Homo sapiens: one gene and its partner. The protein of the gene in region 1 purifies or fractionates together with the protein of each later gene. This does not show direct contact. Each region holds a gene or a part of one and is shown on either strand. Other genes may lie near its edges.

What was found. Proteins that work in one complex are often made in the same cells at the same time.
Region 2: the proteins of LRFN3 (region 1) and TNFSF8 purify together in Homo sapiens (co-immunoprecipitation; one large-scale study listed by IntAct). This does not show direct contact.

The regions. Positions count from the first base shown.
Region 1 is NC_000019.10:35,938,219-35,943,797, forward strand, and holds part of LRFN3 (leucine-rich repeat and fibronectin type-III domain-containing protein 3 precursor), read left to right. Parts: intron 1-1,191; 5' UTR 1,192-1,207; coding exon 1,208-2,622; intron 2,623-5,579. UniProt on the Homo sapiens protein: Cell adhesion molecule that mediates homophilic cell-cell adhesion in a Ca(2+)-independent manner. Promotes neurite outgrowth in hippocampal neurons.
Region 2 is NC_000009.12:114,919,542-114,924,167, reverse strand, and holds part of TNFSF8 (tumor necrosis factor ligand superfamily member 8), read left to right. Parts: intron 1-4,626.

The DNA of each region.
Region 1 (5,579 bases):
CTCCTCCCACCCCTGACCCTAACTCCCAGTCTGCAACTGTCTGACCATCTCTGGCCACCTCTCCTCTCTCTCTCACTCACTGATGCCCTCTGATCATCTCTGGCCACCTCTTCTCTCTCTCTCACTCATTGATGCCCTCTTGATCATCTCTGGCCACCTCTTCTCTCTTTCTCACTCACTGATGCCCTCTTGATCATCTCTGCCCACCTCTTTTCTCTCGCTCGCTGATGCCCTCTGATCATCTCTGGCCACCTCTTCTCTCTCTCTCACTCACTGATGCCCTCTGATAATCTCTGGCCACCTCTCCTCTCTCACTTGCTGATGCCCTCTGATCATCTCGAACATCTCTGCTGCCTTTCCTCTCTCCGATGACCTCTCCCCGCACCATCCTCCTGAGCAGCTGTCCTGGGCTCCCACTGACTCTGCCATGTCTGTCCTTTTCCTCCTCTCTGACCACCTTGCTGGCTTTGGGCCGTTTCTGACCACGTGTCTCTGACATGGTCATCTCCCCCAGATCTGAGCCCAACCCATGCCCTCCCTTCTCTTTGTCCACTGCTCATCTTCCTGACCATCTGTAACCCCTTCTCTTCTCTGGTCATATCTGACCACTTCTGATCATTGTTGCCACCCTGGCTGCCCCGTCTCCCCATGGCCAGCTTTTACCATCTCTGACCACGTCTAAAGCCCTCTGGTTTTCCTGCCACTCACCCAGACCAGCTGTCATTTCTCTGACCATTTCTTTACTTTTTTCTTTTGGAGAGACAGAGTCACGCTCTGTTGCCCAGGCTGGAGTGTGGTGGCGCAATCATAGCTCACTGCAGCCTCAAATTCTTGGGCTCAAATTGATCCTCCCACCTCAGTGTCCCATGTAGCTAGGACCACAGGTGGGCGCCACCATGCCTAGCTAATTTTTAAAAATTTTTGTATAATAGATACACGGTCTCACTTTGTTGCCCAGGCTGGTCTTGAACTCCTGGCCTCAAGCCATCCTCCTGCCTCAGCCTCCCCAAATGCTGGGATTACATGTGTGAGCCACCGCGCCTGGCCTTCCTCTGGCTTTTGGTCACATCTGACGGTCTTTGACCAGCCCTTCTGCCCTCAGCCCACTGTGACCTTCTCTCCTGGTCTCAGACCACCCCCAGCCCCTGCAGAACCCCTCTTCTGCCCTCACGCCTCCCCTCTTCTCCGCAGGACACCCCTGCCCGCGATGGCCATCCTCCCGTTGCTCCTGTGCCTGCTGCCGCTGGCCCCTGCCTCATCCCCACCCCAGTCAGCCACACCCAGCCCATGTCCCCGCCGCTGCCGCTGCCAGACACAGTCGCTGCCCCTAAGCGTGCTGTGCCCAGGGGCAGGCCTCCTGTTCGTGCCACCCTCGCTGGACCGCCGGGCAGCCGAGCTGCGGCTGGCAGACAACTTCATCGCCTCCGTGCGCCGCCGCGACCTGGCCAACATGACAGGCCTGCTGCATCTGAGCCTGTCGCGGAACACCATCCGCCACGTGGCTGCCGGCGCCTTCGCCGACCTGCGGGCCCTGCGTGCCCTGCACCTGGATGGCAACCGGCTGACCTCACTGGGCGAGGGCCAGCTGCGCGGCCTGGTCAACTTGCGCCACCTCATCCTCAGCAACAACCAGCTGGCAGCGCTGGCGGCCGGCGCCCTGGATGATTGTGCCGAGACACTGGAGGACCTCGACCTCTCCTACAACAACCTCGAGCAGCTGCCCTGGGAGGCCCTGGGCCGCCTGGGCAACGTCAACACGTTGGGCCTCGACCACAACCTGCTGGCTTCTGTGCCCGCCGGCGCTTTTTCCCGCCTGCACAAGCTGGCCCGGCTGGACATGACCTCCAACCGCCTGACCACAATCCCACCCGACCCACTCTTCTCCCGCCTGCCCCTGCTCGCCAGGCCCCGGGGCTCGCCCGCCTCTGCCCTGGTGCTGGCCTTTGGCGGGAACCCCCTGCACTGCAACTGCGAGCTGGTGTGGCTGCGTCGCCTGGCGCGGGAGGACGACCTCGAGGCCTGCGCGTCCCCACCTGCTCTGGGCGGCCGCTACTTCTGGGCGGTGGGCGAGGAGGAGTTTGTCTGCGAGCCGCCCGTGGTGACTCACCGCTCACCACCTCTGGCTGTGCCCGCAGGTCGGCCGGCTGCCCTGCGCTGCCGGGCAGTGGGGGACCCAGAGCCCCGTGTGCGTTGGGTGTCACCCCAGGGCCGGCTGCTAGGCAACTCAAGCCGTGCCCGCGCCTTCCCCAATGGGACGCTGGAGCTGCTGGTCACCGAGCCGGGTGATGGTGGCATCTTCACCTGCATTGCGGCCAATGCAGCTGGCGAGGCCACAGCTGCTGTGGAGCTGACTGTGGGTCCCCCACCACCTCCTCAGCTAGCCAACAGCACCAGCTGTGACCCCCCGCGGGACGGGGATCCTGATGCTCTCACCCCACCCTCCGCTGCCTCTGCTTCTGCCAAGGTGGCCGACACTGGGCCCCCTACCGACCGTGGCGTCCAGGTGACTGAGCACGGGGCCACAGCTGCTCTTGTCCAGTGGCCGGATCAGCGGCCTATCCCGGGCATCCGCATGTACCAGATCCAGTACAACAGCTCGGCTGATGACATCCTCGTCTACAGGTGCAGGGTCCAGGCACTGGGGTAGCTTGGGTGGGGGAGTGAGGCAAGGGGAGGGTTGAGGGTACACCTACTAATACCCTACACCGAAGCACAACTGATAAGTGATGCTGGAAGGTTCCAAAAGAAATCAGAGAGCAAAAGTAAAAGAAATCAGGCAGCAAGGATAACAAGACTCTGGCAGAAAGGGTCAATGAAATCTGACAGCAGTGATAAAAAGAAGTCAGACAAGAAGGACGAAGTAAATGAGACAGCAAATGTTAAAATATATCAGGCTACAGGGCTAAAAAAGATCAAGCAATAAGGATAAACGAAATCAGGCTGCATGAGTAAAAAGAAATTAGGCAGCAAGAATAAATAGTAGTAGCAAACATAAAAAGGAAACCAGGCAGCGGGAGGAGAAAGTAATCAGGGCAGAAGAATAAAATGTTAATGGGCAAGGGTGGGTGGGGAAGATAAGGGGATAAAAATAAATTTAAGTTGTAAAGATAAAGAGAGAAACACCAGGTTTTCCAGATGACAGGACTAGATACTAGCTGGGCTGCAGGAAGAAAAGGAGATCAAACAGGAAAGCACAGGGAGCCCAGAAACAATGAAATAAGCAGCTCTGTTAGAAAAAGAAATCAGACCAGAGGTTAGAAGGAAATTGCAGGGAGGAGGTTCGATAGAGACTGGGCTTCGGTGTGTGTGGTGTGAACTATTCCATGTTTCAAGTTCTAATATAGTGACATCCAGATTTTTTTTTTTTTGAGACAGGGTCTCACTTTGTCGCCCAGGCTGGAGTGCAGTGGTGCAATCTCGGCTCACTACAACCTCCACTTCCCGGGTTCAAGCGATTCTTGTGCCTCAGCCTCTCGAGTAGCTGGGATTACAGACGTGCACCAGCACGCCCAGCTAATGTTTGCATTTTATTTTTAGTGGAGACGGGGTTTTGCCATGTTGGCCAGGCTGGTCTAGAAGTCCTGACCTCAGGTGATCCACCTGCCTCAGCCTCCCAAAGTGCTGGGATTACAGGCGTGAACCACCACACCCAGTGTAGATTTTTTCTTTTCTTTTTTTTTTTGAGACGGAGTCTCACTCTGTTGCCCAGGCTGGAGTGCAGTGGCACAATCTTGACTCACTGCAAGCTCCGCCTCCCAGGTTCATGCCATTCTCCTGCCTCAGCCTCCCGAGTAGCTGGGACTACAGGCGCCCGTCACCATGCCCGGCTAATTTTTTGTATTTCTAGTAGAGATGGGGTTTCACCATGTTAGCCAGGATGGTCTCGATCTCCTGACATCGTGATCCACCCGCCTCGGCCTCCCAAAGTGCTAGGATTACAGGCCTGAGCCACCGCGCCCGACAGATTTTTTATTTTCTAAATCAAATCAAACCTAGTTCAAGTTCCTTTTGCCAGGTAAACAGAAATATCCAGTTTGCCACACTTGTGGGGGATTCTCTTCTCTCTCCTGTTGTTGCAAACACAGAACCTGGGGTTTACACACTCCAAGAGGTGGCTCAGTCCAACTTGTTCCCCCAAGCTGGAGAGCACTCAGCACATCTGCAGTGACCGCATGTGGTCAGCAGTGGTGGCTGCTGACCTAGGTGCTGTTGACACCTCTTACCAAAGTCCAACCTTGCATGGATGGACTGCGGCTGTGGGTGAGTCCCTGTCCTCACGGCCAGGCTGGGCCAAGGGTGCAGCCCCAAGGCTGACTGTAAAGACTGGACCTCCCCAGGGTTGAGGACTGTTCCTTGGGGACCTAGTAGTACCTGGATGTCCTTTCCCTCCCTTGGGGCCAACACCTCAAGAAAAGGCCACTTGATTTCCATTTCAGTCCTGGCAACCCACTGAGCTCATTCTACTCCCTTTCTCAGACATGACTCGGAAGATTGCACGGAAGTCCTGCCCCTGAAAATCACACAAGTCGGCCAGGCGCGGTGGCTTAACCCCTATAATCCCAGCACTTTGGGAGGCCGAGGCAGGTGGATCACCAGGTCAGGAGTTTGAGACCATCCTGGCTAACACGGTGAAACCTCGTCTCTACTAAAAATACAAAAAATTAGCTGAGTGTGGTGGCACGCGCCTGTAGTCCCAGCTACTCAGGAGGCTGAGGCAGGAGAATTGCTTGAACCTGGGAGGCGGAGGTTGCAGTGAGCCGAGGCTGTGCCACTGCACTCCAGCCTGGGTGACAGAGTGAGACTCCGTCTCAAAAAAAAAAAAAAAAAGTCACACAAGTCCTGGCCACCTTGCCAGGTGGGGAATGGGATGAATGCTGTCCTAGACAGTCACCCTGCCCCAGGCGGCCACGGAGTTCCCTGTACCTCTCTCATTAGAATAGCCTAGGAATAAAACAGGTGATAAGTCAACTCTCCAACAGGGTGCCCAACTACAAAAGAAACTATAGTGAAATTGGGTGGTAAGGATTAAAAGGAAACAAGAAAGAAAAAGATAAATAGAAACCAGCCAACAGAGATAAAAGAGAAGCAGGTGACAGAGCCGGAAAGAAATAAGGCAACAGGGAGAAAAAGAAAGCAGTAGTGACGGAGGCACATTAGTTTAATGAAAAGGGAATCAGACGACAGGACTCATTGGAAAACAGGCTATCAATACAGTCATCATAATAAGGCAATAGGGCTAGGGGGACATTTATTGGCAGGTTACAAGGAAATCGGGCAACAGGGGTACAGGGAGATCAGGTGGTTTGATTGGAGAGAATCCTAGCTGTACACTAGAGGAAAATCAGGCAGCTGGAAAAGGGAAATTTGGCATAGGCTGCAGGAAATAGGGGAACCAGAGGGAAATTGGCAAGCGTCTGGAGGAGACTGGGAGGTAAAATGTGGGGGAAATTGGATGGGGGTGGCTAGAAGACAAAAGGATTAAATTAGATGGAAATTGGACAGGGTTAGAGCAGAATTGGGTGGTGAACTGGAGAGATGACTGGCAGTGGGACCAGAGTGAAATCAGGCAGAGGATTGGG
Region 2 (4,626 bases), on another chromosome or scaffold:
TGTATGCACATTAAAGTTTGAGAAGCACCGAGCTAAAATCTCCTTTGCCCTTTGGTGTTTGTTTTAAATAACATTGACCTTTTTTTAAAGGGTCCAGGCCAATTCTGTTGTAGAAATCCATTCATAGCCTGGATTTGTCTTAGTATTAACTCATGGTTATACTCAGATGAAACATTTTTAGTAAGAATAGTATATAGGTAATTCTATATACGTCTTATTGTAGCACAGCTAGAGACATATGTCAGGTTGTCCCATTTTTTTTGACTATAGGTTTAGTCACTTGATTAAAGCGGTGACCACCAACTATCGCCTTTGTAAAACATTTTTTCTTTCTCATTAACAAGTAATCTGGCCAGGAGCAGTGGCTCATGCCTGTAATCCCAACACTTTGGGAGGCAAAGGTGTGTGGATCACTTGAGGCCAGGATTTCAAGACCAGGCTGGCCAACATGGCGAAATCCTGTCTCTACAAAAAATACTAAAATTAGCCGGATGTGGTGGCACACACCTGTAGTCCCAGCTACTAGGGAGGCTGAGGCAGGAGAATCTCTTGAACCCAGGAGGCCAAGGTTGCAGTGAACAGAGATGGCACCACTGCACTCCAGCCTGAGTGACAGAGTGAGATTTCATCTCAAAAAAAAAAAAAGAAAGAAAGAAAGAAAGAAAGAAAGAAAGAAAGAAAGAAAGAAAAAGAAAGAAAAGTAATCTATGTATGGGATAATACTCTGAAGACATAAATACTCTTCACTTGGTGGTTTTGCCATTTCTTAATGATCCTTGTCTGAATCAGCTAATGCACTGAGGGTTGAAAAAGAGGGAATGCCTAAGTCTGTCACTCCTTCCAAATTTATTAGCTGTCATTCTTCTGTAGAGAAGAGCTCCCCATTGGAAAGATGGTGGCAGGAGGAGGAGGAGCAGGATATTCCAGGTGAGGCAAAAGAGAAAGCAGTGGCACAGCCCATAAGAAGGCAAGCCCAGGTGTGAGGAGAGGAATGGTAGGGCCAGAAGTCAGTCCAGATTGTACAGAGGAGAAGAAACGGAACTAGATGATAAAAAGATTTGATAGAAGAGACGGAGAGGACAGGATATCACTGCCATCTTCAAACTAGAAAGATTTCCTAAGCCCATATCTGAGCCCAAATCTATACTCAGCCTCCTACAGCCATCTCTCAAGACCTCAGGTGTTCTGATTGCCTACTGAGTAGTGTATTTAAGACTTTGCTACTCAAGGTGTGGTCCATGGCCTGGCAACATTGGCATCACCTGGATGCTCATCAAAAATGCAAAACCTAAGGGCCCCTCCCTACTGAGTCAGAATCTGCTTTTACCAAAATCCCCCGATGCTGGTCAGTCTTTTAAAGTGGGAGAAGCACTGCTTTAAGCCACTGTGGTCCACTTCTCACTTTGGCAGACCATGTGCTCCCAGTAAAAATAGTCTTCCCCTGAGGATTTTCTATGACTTCTATTCACTTTTCCATGAAATTTCAGGAGATTTTTCTGCTCAGCTTTATCCTGCCCTCATCTAGAGAGGCAATGTAGCAGGACATTGAAGAGCAGTGCCTTCAAAGTCAAACACCTAAGTTTGAATCCCTTCTGTGCTATTCGCCACCTGTGGGACCTTCTATAAACATTATCACATTATGAAATCACTTCTCTAAGTCTTGATGAATCCGTAACTCTTGGGGTCAAGTTAAAGGCCAAATGAAATAGTGCATGTAGAGTAACCCTCATTAAGTGCCCAATGAATTAGCTTGAAAATAAGAGGTATCCTTGGCAAAAGTCCCTTTGGGCCATGAGCCAGAGCCCACCTTACAAGACTATGTGAGGGCAACAAGGAAAGGAATGTGGACTTCCCCTGGCATATTCCAAACAGAGCTGCCTTTGATCATTTTTGGTCCACGGGGGCATTTTGTGTCCAAAGCAAATTCAGGAGCTCATTGCATCTGCTGATCATTCCTCTGTGAAAAGAAACAAGCCTTTCAAGGTATTGAGGCAAATTAAGCACATCATTAACACCAAGGCAGTGCTCAAAATAGCTATGCTTTTCAAATACTTGCTAACACTTTATAATATCTTATGATGTCCACAATAACCCAGTGGAAAGATGGATGATTAGCCATCTAACCACTGATTAAAGGAGAAGAAAACACTCCAAGGCAAGGAAGATGGTTGGGATGGGGGTCATTTTACCTGGAGACAAACAGGTTAAACATGACCATTCCTCCCTCCATACATGAAAATAACTTTATTACTGTTGGGAATACTCATCAGACATCTACAGAGGCCAAAAACAGAGGAAGTACACTTAAGGAAGTATACCTCGTTGATAACCACGGAGACAAAGTTTCCTGAGCTACTCAGTGGAGCTGAGAATGAAAACCTGGGAGAGTCCATTTGTTTGTGCCTGCATTCAGCCTAGGCACTACCTTACACAAAGCCAAGTCATTGAGCAAGATAGTTCACATTTCCTGAGCTAGGACCCAGATCCCCAGACAAGATTAGGGAGAGAATTCTAGGACTGGGGGACATCTTGCCAAAGAGGAGTTGGTGAACAACACTTAGTGTAATACCTGTTTATGAACAGTCTTCACTGAATTTCAACAGCCATCATCTCCTTAGACATTGCTTCTCCACCTCCAAATGCAGGGACTGCTTATGGGAGAGGGGAGGAGGGAGGAATGAGCTCTTCTATCCTTTGTTTCTGGAAACAGCATCTCTCCTAGGGCAGTGGAAAGTACACCAGAGAATTTCAGTCCAAGATCTGCCTCTGACTCATGAGTGCCTTGGTTTCCTCCTCCATAAAATTAGCTTGATGGACTGAAAGATGTCTCAATCTCCCTCTGGCTTTGATTGTCTAATCTTGACTACCATGGGTAGCTAGGAGAAGCTGTAAAGACCTCATCCCAAGAGCTCTTCAAAATAGGAATAGTCACGCTTCTGTCATGGACTTCCTGGGCCCTGGGTGAAGGTTTAAATGACAGGTTTCTTTCCTGTTTGAGATGCTCTGCTTTTGACATCCCATGTCTGAAATTAGGAAACCAGAATGCATTCAAGTGACAGAGAGAAAAGAGGCTTTCCTTGACCCCCATATAAATTAGGTCCTCCTCTCTGATATTACTTCTCACAGCTGTGCTATTCAAAGTGTTCTGTGGGCCAGGAGTGTCAGTATTACTCGAAAGCTGCCAGAAATACAGAATGTTGGCCAGGTGCGGTGGCTCACGCTTGTAATCCCAGCACTTTGGGAGGCCCAGGCGGGCAGATCACAAGAGGTCAGGAGTTCAAGACCAGCCTGGTCAACATGGCGAAATCCCGTCTCTACTAAAAATACAAAAATTAGCCGGGGGTGGTGGTGGGCCCCTGTAGTCCCAGCTACTGGGGAGGCTGAGGTAGAGGAATTGCTCGAATCCAGGAGATGGAGGCTACAGTGAGCCGAGATTGCGCCACTGCACTCCAGCCTGGGTGACAGAGTGAGGCTCCATCTCAAAAAGAAAAAAATGCAGAATGTTAAACTCCCCCCAAATCTGCAGAATCAGAATTTGCATTTTAACGAGACTCCCAGGTGATTCATATGCACATTGAAGTTCTAACAGCACTACCTTAAAGCACTATGATTCTTTTCCTCCATAGCTCTTGCCACAACCTGCAATTCTAATTACACATTTATTTATATTTTTTAAATGGCTGCCTTAATGACTAAAGCATAAAATCCATAGGATGTCTTTTAGTGACTAACGTAGTTCCTACCACAGACCAGGTGCTCATTCAAGGTGTGCTGCATGAATGATTCTCTAGGACTTCCCGAACTGCTAGCAGCCTCTGCAATGATGGCTGTACCAGGTTTGCTATTCTAGCCTCTCTCACTGTCCCTGTATATGTCCCTGGGCAGCTTGATGAATTTGATGATTGTGGTAAGACATTTCAATGCAGATATTTTTCTTAGTGCATTTGCACATCATGCTAATCAATGGTCACGCTTGGCAGTAAGTTGTAAGTTGTTTATTAAATTTTAAAATGTTGTGTGTTGTCTCACAAGGGCAACATAAAGGGGAATTTTGTGATATCAAGTTTTCCTGCAAACTGCATGCATAACTGAAAGACTACAAAAACTTAGCTTTGTTAGGTTAAAAGCTTTCAACTAAGGCAACAAAGTCGTAGACTGTTACAGTAGGAAGGGCCTTCCAGGACAAGTTTGCCTCCCTTCCCCTGAGAAGGTAGGGCCCAAATGTTTAAGCTGACTTCCCCCATCTCCAGATTGGTGCTGTGCCAGGGCTTTGCCTTCAGGAGACCTCCTTGACTCACTACCAACCTCTTGCACTAGAGAAGAGATCCATTCATAAGAAAACAAGCTTTCAGCGGAAGGCAAATGACAGACCTCCCAGGGAAATGTTACAATAATAGGGGAACTCCAGATGGTCCTAGTGTTCATACAGAACACTAAGAAAATAAGCTGTGGGCGGCTGCTAATTTCTTGCTTTGGTAGAGGTTAGGAAGTTGGTTTTTTCGCATACACACGCTCACACCTCTCTAGGTCTTTACTAATATTTTAATTCAATGCAATACAGGAGATTCCAACCTGGGCAGGTCAAAAGATGAATAAAATACTTCATTCCTTATTGGCAGAATATTG